2 separate regions of the Homo sapiens genome follow, and region 2 is linked to region 1. Evidence: fine-mapped expression QTL. A gene starts in region 1. The other region holds a variant in brackets. All regions are shown on one strand. Distances are between the middles of the regions.

The links. PIP is the estimated chance that this variant, and not a neighbour inherited with it, causes the effect.
Region 2: its variant is fine-mapped to the expression of KIAA0753 in whole blood (TOPMed, PIP 0.98).

What each region holds. Positions count from the first base shown.
Region 1 is chr17:6,636,932-6,645,257 of GRCh38, forward strand. KIAA0753 reads right to left here and starts at 3,780. Exons shown (of 19, transcript NM_014804.3): 1 at 3,706-3,780. It overlaps TXNDC17 (thioredoxin domain containing 17), which reads left to right and starts at 4,129. Exons shown (of 4, transcript NM_032731.4): 1 at 4,129-4,296; 2 at 4,822-4,903; 3 at 5,318-5,393; 4 at 6,020-7,610. The coding sequence starts at 4,152. The coding sequence ends at 6,088. MED31 (mediator complex subunit 31) reads right to left here. Exons shown (of 4, transcript NM_016060.3): 4 at 6,380-7,728. The coding sequence ends at 7,536. It overlaps LOC122526780, which reads right to left and starts at 3,385. Exons shown (of 1, transcript NM_001396008.1): 1 at 1-3,385. The coding sequence starts at 3,385. RefSeq lists enhancers at 1-612, 613-1,394, 2,339-2,408, 3,307-4,188, 4,319-4,588 and 1 more.
Region 2 is chr17:6,574,228-6,582,511 of GRCh38, forward strand. It overlaps KIAA0753, which reads right to left. Exons shown (of 19, transcript NM_014804.3): 19 at 3,920-5,637. The coding sequence ends at 5,520. Among named protein-coding and RNA genes, the nearest start is that of PITPNM3, 22 kb to the left of the region's middle. The variant T/C (reference allele first, on the strand shown) is at 3,947.

The DNA.
Region 1 (8,326 bases):
AAACTGAGGGTACCCCCACAGCTGTTCTTGTCCCTGACATGCCTAGAGCATTCTCATAGGCTGTTTCTTCCCCCAAAGACCTTGGACAGCTCCATAACCTGGCCCCAGGCACACAGGTGTGAGATGTCCCCACAGCCTGGCTGCCCCCGGCCAGTCCCAAAATATTCCCACCTCCTGTCTCATCCTCTGAAGCCCCCACTCCCCCTGTGGACTGTCTCCTCAGCACGGTCAGACCTGAGACACCCACGTCCGCTTCTGCTCCTGAGGACCCAGTCACCCACACCGCAGCAGGCGCACGCCCTGCCATGGGAGCTCCTACAGCTGCAAGCACCCCCAGAGGCAGAGGCACCCTCCCGGCCTCGGGAATGGCTCCACCGTGTCTCCTTCTCCACAGGCCTGAGACACCTTCAGAGCCTGTCTCCCCCTCCACAGGTCCAGGAACCCTGGCAGCTGTGGGCCCCTCAGTGGCCAGTCTCCTTCCCCATATGCCTGAGCCGTCATCCCCAGAGCCCGTATCCCCTACCATTGGCCCTGGAAGCCCGGGAGCTGTGGGCACTCCCACGGCCATGGAACCTCTAGCAGCCACAGGCCTCCCAGCAGTCTGCCTTCTTCCAGACAGGCCAGAGACATGCTCAAAGATGGTCCCCTCCCCCACAGACCCCAGCAGCCCCACAGCCATGGACACTCCTGTAGTCTGTCTGCCTCCCAACAAACCTGAGACACCCCCAGAGCCAGTCTTCTCCGCCATGGGCCCAGGCATCCTGGTCGAGGTGGGCACCTCCATCCTTGTGGGACCCTTGGCATCTGCAGGTCCGCCCACTGTCTCTCTTTCACCCCACAATTCTGAGCCAGTTTCCTCTTGCACAGGCCTAGGCACCCTGGGAGCCACGGGCACCCCACTAGCTGCAGACAGCCCCACAGTGCCAGGCATTCCTGCAGTTTGCTGCCTCCCTGACAAGCCTGAAAAGCCTCCATCACCAGGCTCCAGCTCCACAGAACCAGGCACCCTAGGAGCCAGAAGGACTTCGGTGGCCACAGGAGCCCTGACCCTCTGTCTCTGTCCCCAGGGTCTTGGGATACCCCCAGAGTCAGTCTCCCCCCCAAGCCCAGGCCCCTCAGGCACCACAGGAACCCCAATAGTCTGTCTCCTCCCCCATGGGCCCGGGAAGGCCCCAGAACCACAATCCTCCCCGCCAGACCACAGCTTCTCCCGAGCCACGTGTCCCCCTGAAGCCACGGATTCCTCCCCGCCTGACCACAGCTCCTCCTGAGCCACGGGTCCCCCTGAAGCCACGGATTCCTCCCCGCCAGACCACAGCTCCTCCCGAGCCACGGGTCCCCCCGAAGCCACAGATATTCTGGCAGCCCGAGTCCTTTCCCACAGGTTCAAAATGTCTCTAGAGCTGCCTTCCTGACACACAGGACCAGACGCCCACACAGCAGCAGGCACTCTGGCAGGCACCTTTCCAGAGCCGGGCACACCCATTGCCATGAGGACCCCTGCTGCGGCACACCCCTGCCGGGGCACATCTGCTGCCCTGGGTATGCCCACCGTCTCAGACACCCCCACAGCCTGCCTCCTCCCACACTGACATGCAACATCTCCACAGCCAGCCTCCTGATCCACTGACCCAGGGACCCCTAAAGCTGGAGGCCCCAGACTCTCTGGCTCCCCCACAGCCTGCCTCCTTTCCCACGGGCTCAGAACATTCCCACTACAGGTCTCCTCTCCAAGCCCAGGCACTGCCTCGGCTGGGGGCCCCCCAAGAGCTTGCTGTCCGTCCCACAGGCCCAGGCCCCCGCTGTGGCTCAGCTCTTCTCCCAGGGCTCCAGGTACCACCACAGCCTGGGGCACCCTTACCATCTGTCCCGCTCCCCACAGCCCTGGGACACTCACACAGCCCGTGTCCTTCCCCAAGGCCCTGGGTACCCCTGTAGCCTGTTGTATCCCCCACAGGCCTGGGGCACCCCCAGAACCTGCTGCCTGCTCCCCAGGACATGATGACTCTGCAGTCTGCGCAGCTCCCCGTGACCCTGGATCACCCCCAGAGCCTGTCTCCACCCACACAGGCTGTCCCCTTTCCCTGAACCCTGGGTCACCTCCACATCTAGTTTCCTCTTCAGCAGCACAGGGCACCCCAACAGAGTATCCTGTGCCCCACGGGCCGGGCATACCCACAGAGTCTGTCTCCTCCACAGCCTGTCTCCTGTAACACACACCTGCGGCACCCACAGAAGTAGGCTCCTCCTCCACAGCATCGGACACCCCCACAGCCTGTCCCCTCCCCCATACGCCAGGGGTGGCCCCACAGACTGCTTCATGTGTCAGAGCCCCAGGAATCTGCGGGGACTGTCCTCTCCCCCACAGACCTGCAGCACCGCCACAGCCGAGCTCTCCCTCCATGGCTCTGGGCGCTCCCACAGCCCCAGTCCACCCCACGGTCCCAGGCTCGCCCATAGTCTGTTCTTTTTCACAAGGGCCTGAGACAAACCCATAGCCTATCTCCTCCCCAGTCTCAGGAACCCCCACAGCTTCTCCCCTCCACAGGTGCGGGGCCATTTCAGAACTTGACGCCAAAGCCCCAGGCACACTCGCAGGAGGCACCCTCCCAGCCTGTCCCTGTCCACAGAAGCCTAAGGCTCTCTCGTAAGCTGCCCCTAAGCCCAGAGCTGTGGGCCCTGAGGGGGCCCGAGGGATCCCCCTTGCCTGTTCCTTCACCCAGGGCCCTGTAAGACCGCCGCGGCTTGTCTCTACCCAGGAAGCTCGGCCAGGAACACCCCTTTCGACAGGTCCCTCTCCTGCAGGCACGGGATGGAGCTCGACTCTACTTCCTTCCCCACATCCCGAGGCGGCCCTCATAGCCTGCACCTTCAGCCACAGGTGCAGAATGCTCTCATGGCCCAGAGATCCCGGGCGACCTTTTCTCTCGCAGCCCCGGGGACTTCTATCTTCGGTCTCCTCCTCCCCAGACCCGGTCACCCACACAGCCCCGGCAAGCCCCACCACCTCGGGCTCCCCCACAGCCCCGTTCACCCACACAGCCCCAGGGTCCCTTGCAGCCTCGATGGAGCCTGGGGTCCCAGGAGCTCCCAAAGCCTCATTCGCCCCGGCGGCGTCGGCTGTCTCCGCCGCTTGTCTCGTCCCCCATGGCCGCTGACGGCCCTGTGGCCTTTCTGCACTCACACAGCGCGTCTCCCACTCCGAGGGCTTCGCCCGGCGCCTTGCTCCACGGCCTCGGGACGTCCCTGCGCCCCGTCTCTTCCCCCACGGCCGCCGAACCCCCCGCCCCGACCTGCTGGGCCCCACGCAGCGACCCGGCATCTTAGCCGCCTGCTCTCCCCGGCGCAGCCTGGGCAAGGCCCCACGGCGAGTCTCCCGGCTCATAGCTCCAGGGCAGTTCCCTTCCTCCCTACCGCGGCCCTGGGGGATGTCTTAGCACCTCGCTCCCTAAGCTGCTCCACACACGCACTCACACACTCCGCTCCGGCCTTGCAGCCTTTCTCCCTCCGAGCCCCTCACCCATCCCACCCCCGCCCAGTCTCGGGAACCCGCCCCCAGTCCCAGGCCCCCGTAAAGCCTAGACGGCAGAAAAGGTAACTGGGGGGACAAAGCAACAAAGGCTTTCCGAGTCAGATCTCCTCTCCCCCAAGTCCATGACTCTATGCGGCTTCCCAGAATCCCCCCCAGCCCCGGCCCGAGCCCACCTGGCCTAGGGTGAGGCGCGGCTACTGGGAGGCGGGCAACGGGGGCCCCCAACAAGGCCGCGCTTCCGGCCGCCTGCCCAGTCGCCATAGCAACAGGCGCAGGGCGGCTTGGGAGCCTTTGAGGCCCTGAACTATTTAAGGATCCAGGTGTTGCAAGGCGGTAAGTTTTGCAGCCAGTGTCCATGAGGTCGGGGCTGGGACTAGATTAGGGTAGATCTAAGCCTGGGCTTGGGAGTGCAGCTAGCGCAGAAAGATCTGAGGAACTAGAGCAAAAAGCCATGCGGATGGATTGTGGTCGTCAGAGGCTCCCGTAGTCTTTAGCGGCGCTGGCTTCCGCAGGCTCCGCCCTCTCTTGCCCACCCGGAAACAGCCTCGCCCCGCCTACGCGGGACCCAACCGCGGCGACCGGACGTGCACTCCTCCAGTAGCGGCTGCACGTCGTGCCAATGGCCCGCTATGAGGAGGTGAGCGTGTCCGGCTTCGAGGAGTTCCACCGGGCCGTGGAACAGCACAATGGCAAGACCATTTTCGCCTACTTTACGGGTTCTAAGGACGCCGGGGGGAAAAGCTGGTGCCCCGACTGCGTGCAGGGTGAGGCCGGGATTCGGGGGCTGCTGTCCAATGGAAATGGCAGGAAGGTCGAGCCTACGGCCAGAAGGGGGGCTTAGCGGAGGCAGAGTCTTGGTTCCAGACATCCGCGGAGCAATCTGAGCTGTCCCCAAGTCTCCTTCTATTAAATCCTACCCCGCCCTGCCAAGAGCGCTCTTCCTTTTACCACCTTACCCGGATGATCTTGGAATCTAGTTCCTTAAAACTTCTCACTCCCCCAGTACCATTAGTGTCTTACAGGATACGTGAGTTGGTCAGCAAATACATGTGCTTTCCATTGTTACGGGCGCGGTGGTGCAGGGGCAAATCGGGACTGGGATTTGGTCCTTACCCTTAACGTGGCTCTAAGACCAGAAGGGAACACCTGACTTGTGTTGACCTCTTCAGTTAGCTGCAGGTTAAAGTCTGAGTGCTTACCAAGACTGGGGGAAGGGGGAAAGAACACAGTTTATACGTGCCTGATTGTAGAGTTGACGTGCGATTATTTTATCTCAACTTTTTTTAAAGCTGAACCAGTCGTACGAGAGGGGCTGAAGCACATTAGTGAAGGATGTGTGTTCATCTACTGCCAAGTAGGAGAAAAGCCTTAGTAAGTGGCAATGTATAATCTACCTCGCAGACGTGCACAAATTGCATACTTAGGCGGGAAGGGCCTCAGGGACTTACTTACCCAGTTTGTCTTACAAGGTAATGTCTGACAAGTTAAACAATTAGAAGCTATTAAATACAAATTTAAAATGCCCACCTGAATTAAGTAAGGGTAATTCAACGAATTTGGTCTGGTGTAAGCCCAGAACTTAGCTGGCTTTACTTTTATATCTTAGTCACACTTTGAAACTTTGCACAGGGTAATTAGTAGATTAAGCCATAGTCCGCAAGGTTTTTTAAGTGTTTGCAAGAACAGTGATTACTAAAAAATTAAATGTAGGACTATGTCAAATATTAAGCAAACTGTAATAAACCAAGTAAATTTTTTTCATGATCACTTTTTCTTTTCGAATAGTTGGAAAGATCCAAATAATGACTTCAGAAAAAACTTGAAAGTAACAGCAGTGCCTACACTACTTAAGTATGGAACAGTAAGTATCTTTAAATATGCTGGGCCTGTAATTCACTGTCAGAACTCTTTTAACTTGCTGTGGATCCAGATTTGAAAAGATCTTGACATTTCATCTCAATTCCATTGTTGTTCAGAGTGCTGCTGAAAGTCCATTCCTATGGCCAATCCCAATAAACTGATAATGTAAATATCTAGCTATTAGGTCTTTTTCATGTTAAGTCACTCTTAAAAAACCAGAAAGTAGGTTGACTCATAATTCCTTAAAACATTTGCATCAACAGTTGTTTTCTGTTTAATTCATAATTCTGGTTAAAAAGTAAGGGCATCTCTTCTAGTTCAGTCATGCCCCTGGGATCCTAAATTAAAGAGTTGAGGGGAAGAAGAGGGCACTGGGCTTGCTGTCTCCTGTTTTAGTCTGTGGAGCTTCCTGGTATTTGGGGTTTAAGTCTCTTGAGCCAAGTATGTTAGTGATTCATCTTACAGCAAATATATTGATTCTTTCATAAAACTTGTTATAACTAGATGATAGTTTCTGAATTGCGTAATTTCTGTGTTCAAAGATGAGTGTCATTCAAGGCAGAACTCATTCCACTCCTAATAACGTTTTATAGAAGTAGTGAAGATTTGACTGTTTTTCTCTTACAGCCTCAAAAACTGGTAGAATCTGAGTGTCTTCAGGCCAACCTGGTGGAAATGTTGTTCTCTGAAGATTAAGATTTTAGGATGGCAATCATGTCTTGATGTCCTGATTTGTTCTAGTATCAATAAACTGTATACTTGCTTTGAATTCATGTTAGCAATAAATGATGTTAAAAAAACTGGCATGTGTCTAAACAATAGAGTGCTATTAAAATGCCCATGAACCTTTAGTTTGCCTGTAATACATGGATATTTTTAAGATATAAAGAAGTCTTCAGAAATAGCAGTAAAGGCTCAAAGGAACGTATTCTTGAAGGTGACGGAAATACCTAAAAACTCCTAAAGGTGCAGAGCACACCTTCCAAATCTCTCAAAAGATCAGTATCTTTTATTTTAAGTTATCTCCATCTGCAAAGCAACTGATGATATTCCTGAAACCCCTTCTTTGATTTTGGAATGTAGAACCTAACCTCACCACTGAAGGAAAGCACATGACCTCTAATCTAGCCTCTGCTTAATTCAGGCAGTTTTGTTTTGTTTAATAAAAAACAGACTCCTGAGCACTAGAAGCAGTTTGTTTTGCAGCTGTCTCAATGTGCTTTACTTGGGATGAGGCAGGTGGCGGAGAGCGGCCGGAAAGACTCTATAACCCAGTTCTGGGAAGAACTCCAAGCTGGGAGTCAGTCACACTGACTCTACCACTTACTAGCTGTGTAACCACAGGCAAGTTACTCACCCCGTCCAAACCTCAGTTTTCTCTTCTATAAACAAGGTTCTTAGAATAAAATGAGAATTCAAGGAAGCACTTAACATAGCACCTGGTTTGTGGTACCTCCCAAATCAATGGTAGCTTTCCCAAATGAACACAAGTATTTGAGGCTCCTCATGTTTGTTCTAAAGTCAAGAGTCCAGTTAGTAACTAACCACTAGTTGTCCTGCCATGACTAGGTCAAGTGAGGCCACAGTGATTCAGTGATTCTTAAAGCCACCTTGCAAAGCAGGTAATACAGTTATTTCCTGTCCTGCAGAATTCAAGAACCTTTATGCAGTTCCTGTCCTATGATTTAAAGAGGTCAGTGACTCCGCTACTCTCACTACATCTTAGAGTAGAGTGGTAGAGTAGTTGATCTGAGACAGTAAGGTTCCAGGAGATGGTCTTGCCCTACTATATGTCAGGAACAGCTAGCCTTAGAATTCAGTATACTTGGTGGCCCACCCCTACCCCATGCCCCAGTGCCTTATTTGGTCTAAAGCACCTAACTTTTCCATTCTTAATCAGCTGATTATGCTAAATGCGTAAAAAAGAAAAACACCTTACAAATCCACAGGGAAATCAAAGAACAATTCAGGTTTAACAGAAATAGTCTATTAACAATAAAAAGTTGGATGAAAAAGCACACTAAAGGTTCTAGGGGCTACCATAATAAAGGTAGATAGGAAGAGTTTTCATTTTTTTTGTCTTCACTGTACAAAAGAAATACATTATATACATGTATTAAGTGCCTCGTTTGTATCCAGTTTTTCATTTTCCCGATGTGTTATTTTGCTGTTGCTGCTCTGCCAAGGCTTGCTGAAGGCGCATCCGCTTCCGGGAATAGTGCTGCCAATGTAGAATCTGCTGTTCATCAATAAATTTCGCACACTGAGCATTCACCAGCTCCTTTCGGAAGTGTTCATATTGGAGCAGCTCTAACATGTGTAAACACTGAGGGTACCTGGGTTTAAGTTTGTAAGTGAATGAACAACATAATTTAGGTAAATAATGCCAAGGTATAATTCAGTTATTCTCTTAAAAACGATCTTGTAGCCTACCATTTCTATAACAGTAACTTAGTACACTCTGGTAGCATAGGGTTTTTTCCCCGATTAGTCATCAAAGGTCAGTGTTCAATATTTTCGAAAATGAGAAGGTTTAAGTTCAGAAAGATTAAATTAACTTGCTCAAGACCACACAACACAGTAACTGGTAAGCAGAGTGAAAATTTAGGGACAAACCATGCTATTCCCTTCTAGCGGTTTCCAACGTGAAGAACATGAACATATTTTAGTAATTATGTGTTTAATTGATAGTTACTCATTTTTCCTTCAATAGGGATAAAAAGACAACTTTCATTTAAAAGTGAGTGTGAAAGAGGACTATGCGCATACATTGTACTCTTGTTGTCCACAGGGATATACCAATTCTGAAATTAGATATACTCTAGGATTGGACAAGCAAATATACTGTGGATAAGGACAGCCAAATTTCTGGCTATCAGAAAAGGAGTTATAGACATGGAAAGGAAAAAGGCTAGAATGAACCCTGTGTTACTG
Region 2 (8,284 bases), 63 kb before region 1:
GTCCAGTTTAGAAACTTCTGGTGGCACCGGAAGCCCTAGAGCAAGGGCGTCCACTGAGGCAGCCCAGGCGGACCAGCTGGAGGGGGAAGCCAGATGTGTATGTGACTCAGAGCAGCCAAAGGCCAGGCCAGGAAAAGTGTTGCCGAGTGTCTAGTGTGACAGGTGAGGCAAGGAAAGACACAGGATTGTGAGCAGGAGAGAGAGTGCAATGGGTGGAAGGAGGCCAGGGACACACTTCGGAACCAAGCCTGCGCGACAAGCTGAAAGGTTCCCTCTTACGAGGTTCTCAGTGGGGAGTCTAATAGGTAACATTTATTGAGCACTTACTGTCTGCTCAGCGTTATTCTAAGTGGTTTCATGGGCATTTCCCTTAATCCTCACAAAAACCTTGGGTGGGTGCTATTTTTTCATCCCCATTTCACCTATTAGGAAACCAAGGCATGAAAATCACACAGGAATTTAACTTGTGGCTCGAATTCTTAATGAGCTGAACTACTGTTGGTATACAAAACAGGAGTGGTTATAGTGATGTAAGGAAAGAATATATGTAAATGCATTTTATAAATTGTAAAGTGCCAGCTAATACGTGAGCTGTTGTTCAAAGCATTCAGGGAACTTTTTTGACCTCTAGTAACTCTCCAGAAGCAATGTGTTGGCTAATTATGGTTAAGAAAAGCCAAATCTCTTATTGAGCCTGGCCCTGGAGATGCCACTCTCCCCCGGGAGGTCTTTAGGGCCACACAGGACGGTGGCTGCACAAGTTTGGTGGCCAGTTTGATCTCCACGGCTCCCTGGACTCCCTGCTTCCTGTATGCACTCGAGAAATCAGTGTCCGCTGAGGGCTTCCTCGGTCAAATTCAGCTCAGGCTTAGGGACCACTGGGGCTGCAGGGCAGATGGCAGAGCCGACATGTCTGGGATCTGAATGCTCCTGCCCCTCGTGATCGCGGCATTTCAGAGCCGGAAGTCTCCCTAGAATTCTCCCCAGTCCACAAGACTTGCCAGGCATGGATAGAGCTATCTCGGAGCACTGAGGGCCTCCCTGTGGCAGGTGGCAGGAATGTGCTGTGGGCTTCCGGGACACAGGCACGGTGACCTTCTGCAGGGCTCTGCAGGCCAGGAGTGAGAGGCCTTAGGCTGACCTCACCAAGACCCACAGTGAAGACAGAGGAACGATGTGTGGGTGGGAGATTCTGGGGAGCCAAGCCGACCAGAAGGGAAACGCATGACTAAGTTCAGCGGGGCAGGCAGAGAGGAAGTGTGGGGGTGGAGGAGGCCGCAGAGCAACACAAGAGGAGAGATCCCCAGTCGGGAGGGTAAAAGGGGACGGGGTGGAGGGCTGCAGTGAAAGCAAAGGGACAGCAGTGACCAGAAGGGGTTTTAGAGGACATGGAGGTGGACGGGGTCTCAGCTGAGATAGTATTTAAGGGTGCTCTTTGGGGTAAAAGTGCCCCAGAAACGACTGGGTAAGACCTTTGAAGGTTCTCCAGAAAGGATTTTGAGGTGTTGGAATGAGTGGAGGGAGAGATAAAACTATGAGACCCAGAGTGTCATGGGGAATGACACCACCAGGGAGAGAGAGGACAGCACATGCGAGTGGCTTGGACTCCTCAAGGGGAGTAGCCAGCTGTGACAAGGTGGGGGGCTGGAAGGCAGCCTTAGTGGTGGGAACGGATGGACCTAACTCCAGGCCACAGGCAGAAGTCCAGTTGGATGGATGGAAAGCGAGCCAGGGAAAATAGTAAAAGCCTGCAGGTCTGGTTCAAGGAAAGGATTTCCAGGTATATGAGGTCAAGAACAGCCAAGGGGACTCTAGGGAAAGCAGCAAATAAAGGATAAAGGGGTCATCTGGGAAGGCAGGTGCAGGCTTGGGGAGAAGACTGGGGAAGGTGGAGCAAGGTCCTGGACAGGCTGGCAAGAGGGGAACCCAGCACTGGAGCTGAACCGGGAGGGGAGCCCTGACTCCGGAAGCCAGCTGTGCACTCCAGGTCGGGGAATGATCCTGCTGGGTCTGTTGCCTGAGTTCACTTGGGCCTGACAACCAGCCCAGGGTCCCTATCTGGGATTTCCTGGGGCCCTTACTGAGGACTGATAGGAAGTACACAGGATGTCAGGTGGAAGCCCCTCCAATCCAGGCCCACGTTATTGGACTCAGTCAACATGCCAGTGTGGAAACAGATCTGAGATCTCGGCTCCTGAACTAATGGAGCTCAGTGGGGCAAGGCCACTGCCCTTCTGCTGCTCTTCAAGAGCCCAGAGAACCAGGAGCCCTTTCACAGGCTGGCCCCTCCCAAAGGTCACTTCTGTGGTGATCATAAGCCCATGATGATGTGGACACCCCTGAATTTACAGGCTCTGCAGGGAATTCTCACTACTGTCTCACGTTGCTAAAATAAAGAGAGCTCCTCTCAGAAACACAGAAGCGTGATGGAAACCTACACTGTCACAGAGAGCACAGGGGACTTTCTGACTTGGACCCTTCCTCTTGCTGTTGGCCCTGGGGCTTCCCTCAGGCCCTTCCTTCTGCCTTTCAGACCCACTGGCCACAGTGCAGTTCATGCCTCCACCTCCCCCACTCCCCCAACACACACACACACAAACACACTCGGACCACCTTCAGGAAAGCAGGAACCGTGAGCCCAGGGAGGAAGTGGAGTGAGGAAAGCGCTTCTCTCCTCACCATCTCTCCTCCAAACCCCAGCTCCGGCGGGCAGAGGGAGAAGGGACCACAGTGCTGAAATAGTAACAGAACACAAGAGGCAAGGGGCTCCCATGCACATCCTTCTGTCTTCTTCTCCAGTCCCTGGGCCGCCCCAGCTTAGTCCCCAGGAGCACCCTGACCAAGGCTCGCTCAAGGTCAGGAGCAGCATGAGGCTGAGGCCCATGCCCTGCTCTAGGAGGAAGGAAGCAAGTTCTTGCCATCTGAGCTGGAATTGCAATGGCAGCAGTACCTCCAAGATGGAATTATAGTTCTCAAATGGCATTCTATCTCGGGGTCACAAAAGGACATCATAGATTTCTGTGGACTATATGAGATGTGACAGACCCCCCCGTATAAAGTCAATCAGCCTGCCCTTCACCTTTCATTAATTCAGAAGAATTTACTGAGCACCAACTACAAGCTAGGCAGGGTCCCTGCCCTCAAGGAGCTAAACAGACTAGAGGTAAGCACAGAAACAGACAGAAATCCCGTGTGACCAAGCTGTGCCGGTGGAGCGCTCGGAGTGCATTTTCATGTCTCTGTACACTGGGGACGGCGTATGCAACACAAAAACACTGAACTCGTGTGTTTCTGCTTCTGAAATAGTACACGAATAGTTCGTGAGAAAGCTGAAGGGAATTACAGAATGATGTACGGTCAGCCCTTGTTCATGAAGAACAAAAAATTCTAGATGTCTGGGCTGGCTGCGAGGCGATAAACGGGAACTTTTATATTCTAAGGATTTAGCTTCCATTTGCAAAGAAAAATGTTTATTTCTTGCAGTATATTTTTGTGTCTTTGGAGAATGCTCTGGCTGTGGATGTTTGCGATGGGCCAGGGATATAAAGTTGACACCTGGACACTGGGGCTGGTTGAAGCTCCACCCACATGAGTCAGAGAAAGGCAGATCCACCTGGTGGGAGGAGCAGGAGAGAGTGGGAAGATCCTGAAACAAGGCAAAGCCTGGGCTCGGCCTTTCAGGACACAAGCTGCAACAGGAAGTGTGAGAATGGGACTGCCCCAGCACACGCCGAGTGGGGATAGGGAAAGGCAGGAAGATGAGCTCAGGTAAACTCCAAGTTTGTTTGGTCAAATTATCTCCTCCTGTGCCTCGTTTTATTCATCTATACAATGGGAACAATGATGCTCTCCACCTCACAGAGATGAGGTGAGGATTAAATAAGTTACTACATGGCAAGCACGGAGAGCAATGCTCTAGTAGGTGCTCAATAAATGTTAGCTTTTA[T/C]TGTCACTAATTTTTTTCTCGGGGGGAAGGGGTGGCAAATAATCCACTATAGTCATATCACATATAAAAGTATTCTCAGTGGTTTCTGTAAATCACATTTCACTTTGCCTGTGGGAAAAAAAGGAGATGTAAGTTATTTAAAATAGGCACATACTTTAAAATATTGGGTTTATTTTAAAAACTCAGCACAGTACAAACTGCCACACAAATTACTTTATACTAGCAACAACCGGTGCTCCTATTAATTCAAGTGTACACATTTAACTCCCCAGGTTAAACACCCTGTAATTTACCTTGAAGCTCTTTACATTCTGAAGTTATATAAAATTAAGCAGGAAAACATTAACATTAAATGAAAATCAATTTTGCACAAATAAGTGTGATCAAGCAGCTTAAATCACCTGAAATTCTTGTACTTCAGAGAAAAATCCCAGATGACGGCACTGGACAGGTTATAAAGAGTTCCCTTATTCCCTGGGGGCGTCTCAGGCATTCTTTCTGCATGTTTCCTTCACTGAGCCTCAGGCTACGAATTGAGAGAAAGTCTTTCCAGGCAGTGGCCTGATTCTTACGCACATTCCGTTTCTTTTTCTGAATTCAGAGTTTCTGAAAACACAGGCTTTTCTCTTGGAAAACATGATCTGTAAGATGTTGGAGGACCAGGCTATGATGGTTCTTAAGTTTCTTCCTTTCTCTGGGGAGACACAGAGGTCTTCGCGCCATCCATCTGTTCCCTACTCCCACTTGGGTTCCTTTGTGGTATGAAATAGAGACACTTCTGACCTCATCGGAGACACAGCGAGGTCTGTACCTTCACCCAGGCACAGGAGAAGGCCTGGTCCTCTCCTGATTCCTCAAACTTCCTCTGAATCCAGAGAAAGTTTTTTATACCAGATTGTGTCAACACACAGCAATAAAATATGCTGAGGAACTAAAAATGTGAAAATCACCTAGGAATGGAACGTTGAAGAAATGTGTGTCTATTATTGTGCACTGACAGCCAGGGGGCTCCTGTTTGGAATAAACTGCAGCAGAGGAGAGGTTTGGCAGCACAGCCAGACTGTGCTCTCCCTGAGTCTACAGCCTAGTAGGGCCAGAGGTCCTGACAGGAAATCGCCAAAGATGCAAAACAGGGGCCCCGTGATGGGACCAGCTAGTAGCCGCACTTGTGTTGGTATCAATGCCAGCAAGGGTTCAACAGCAACCTGAATCCTTGTGTGAAATATACGTATCGATTATCTTTCAAAACATTTTCATCACCAAACTGAGCCAGAGGAATGAACATGGTATTTCAATAGGAAAAGTACACATTCTGAAAATATTGCCATAATCAAGTTGTGTTGCCTGGGCACTGATAAGTGTGATACATTGCATCATACATTTCCAGAACCATTGCCATGACAAAAGAAAATGCAAAGTGAGGATGACCTCCCCGGCACTGCCTTCCTTTCAGTGGGCAGCACCTTCTGGGCCTGGATGGACAGCTGAGGATGAAAATTTCCTGTGGGCCAAAACAAAGGGTGGTGCCATCCCTTCTCCAGTGTGACACAAATGGCCTCGCCTCAGAGAGCCTTTATGTAGCAGCCTCTAAGAATTCTGAGGTGAACACAGCTTCTGCATAATCTTCGCACATATCCTGAAGTTCAGCAGCCACAGCACCCAGAGCTTCATCTACCAGCTCTTCTGAAAAGCTGGAAGACAAACAACACAACTAAAGGTATGTACAAGGCCAGGCGCGGTGGCTCACACCTGTCATCCCAGCACTTTGGGAGGCCAAGATGGACAGATCACCTGAGGTCAGGAGTTTGAGACCAGCCTGGCCAACATGGTGAAACCCGGTCTCTACTAAAAATACATAAAATTAGCCGGGCGTGGTGGCATGCACACCTATAAACCCTGTTACTCAGGAGGCTGAGGCAGGAGAATCGCTTGAACCTGGGAGGTGGAGATTGCAGTGAGCAGAGATCACACCACTGCACTCCAGCCTGGGCAACAGAGTGAGATTCCGTCTCAAAATAAATAAAATAAAATAAAGGTATGTACAGCCATATATGGGAGCCATTCTTTTACTCAGCTGTGGAAATTAACAAGTCAATTCTGAAATCTAAATGGAAATTCAGAAGGCCAAGAACAGCCAAGATACTTTTTTTTTTTTTTTTGAGACGGAGTCTCGCTCTGTTGCCCAGGCTGGAGTGCAGTGGCACCATCTCGGCTCACTGCAAGCTCCGCCTCCCGGGTTCACACCATTCTCCTGCCTCAGCCTCCTGAGTAGCTGGGACTACAGGAGCCCGCCACCACGCCTGGCTAATTTTTTGTATTTTTTTAGTAGAGATGGGGTTTCACCATGTTAGCCAGGATGGTCTCAATCTCCTGACCTCGTGATCCGCCTGCCTTGGCCTCCCAAAGTGCTGGGATTACAGGCATGAGCCACTGTGCCCGGCCAAGATACTTTTGAAGAAGAAAAACAAGGTGAGAGGCCCTGCTCTCCTAGACAGAAGGATGGTGGTGCTTAGATCCCAAAGTCCTGCTAGAGGGACAGGCCTAAAACATACACAGGATGGACTTCATCCTCAATGTGTTTGAAACCAGAGGCGACCAGAAACTAACCAGCTGCAACCTAGCCCCACCTCTAACAGCTGCCTGACCGGCCGACGGAGGAAGGGGTGTGCCTTCTCTGTAGGAGACGGGGGAGGACACTAGGGGACTCTGCACGGGTGCTCCTCTGTACACACACACACACACACACACACACACACACCTTCATTTTCTGAACGGCGCAAGCTTCGTATCTCCCAAGTAGCCCTACAAACAAGGACATTCTCTTAAATAACTATGGTACAATTATAACAATTATAAAATTAACATTGATACAAAACTAGTATCTATTCTACAGGCCTATCTATCTACAGGCCTTATTCAAATTTTGCCAACCATCCAAATAATTTCCTTCAAAAGAAATTTTTTGCTAGTCCAAGGTTCCAGTCTGGGATTCCATGTCGCATTTTGTTGTCACAGCTCTTTAGTCTACTGTAATCTAATAGTCCTTCAGTCTTTCTTTGCCTCTCATGACCTTAACATTTTTTAAAGAATAAAAGCCTTTTTTTGGGGGGGTGGGGAGAATATCCCTCAATTTGGGTTTTTTCCTTATGATCAGATTCAGGACATACGGTTTTGAAAGAGATGCCACAGAAGGATAGTGTGTCCCTTCAGTGCACCATGATATCTATTTGATATCCATTAATGATGTCAGTTAATTTTGCATCACTGGGTTACGGTGATGTCTGCCAGGTTTCTCCCTTGTAAAGTTACTGTTTTCCCCTTTGTAATTAATAGGTATAGTGGAGGGAGATACTTTGAGACTATGTAAACTCCTGTTTCTCATGAAATTCGCCTAAATCAATTATTACAGGGTTGCCAAACACGGATTTTCTACTTCCATCACTTCTTCTCCATTTAATAGCTGGCATTCTACTGTAATGAAAGCTTTCCCTTGTCTTTTACTTATGTATTCATTCCTATCAGTTTGGCCTTATAGATTTTTATTTTATTGTATAGTTTGTAATCCATTACTATTATTACATATTTCGATGCTTGAAAATGTCCTGGATTTGGCCCGTAGGTGCCTCTTGGGAACTCCTGTGAACTCTCGACATGTCCCCATCTTTCTTTGAGCACTTCCTTTCTAGCACAGTATGTCTGAGGCTTATCTTACATTTTTCCAGCCCCAGGCTTATAGTCAGCCATTCTTCCAAGAAGCCCTCGTGCCTCTTCATCTGGTGCCTCTTCATGGAGAACGGTATTTAGAAACCAAGATGTGGGTACTGGGTGTGCTCACTGCTACTGGCACCTCTGCTTCTGGGCCTTCTCAGCAGACAAACTAAGAAACACCCTGTATCTATTTCTACGTCTATAAAAAACCATATATTCATCCCAGCCTTCCCCTAGAAACCTTGCTCCCATTATTCACAATGTACTTACTTATTTGACCAATCCTAAAATATAGAGAAAATAGTTTTCAACTGTTAACCCATGTCACTGTATAAAAGAAACCTACAAACTAGAATCCAGTTATGTGTTTACAGTTCTTTTTGTCTTTAGCCAGAGGTAAAGAGTCAACATACTGTGTTCAAAAGTTATTTAGGCTTCATGCCGTTAATATGATTATATTATTTATTTGAAATACAGTTAAGTTCATGTTTCTGTTTGTATTCGACTTAAGGCCCCCGCCCCATCCCTGTTGACTAAGGGGATGTATAAGAAACATTAACATGGTTTCAAAAGTCAGAGTTACACAAAAATGGTAAATGCAGATAAGTTTCACTCCCCCTCTCCTATTCC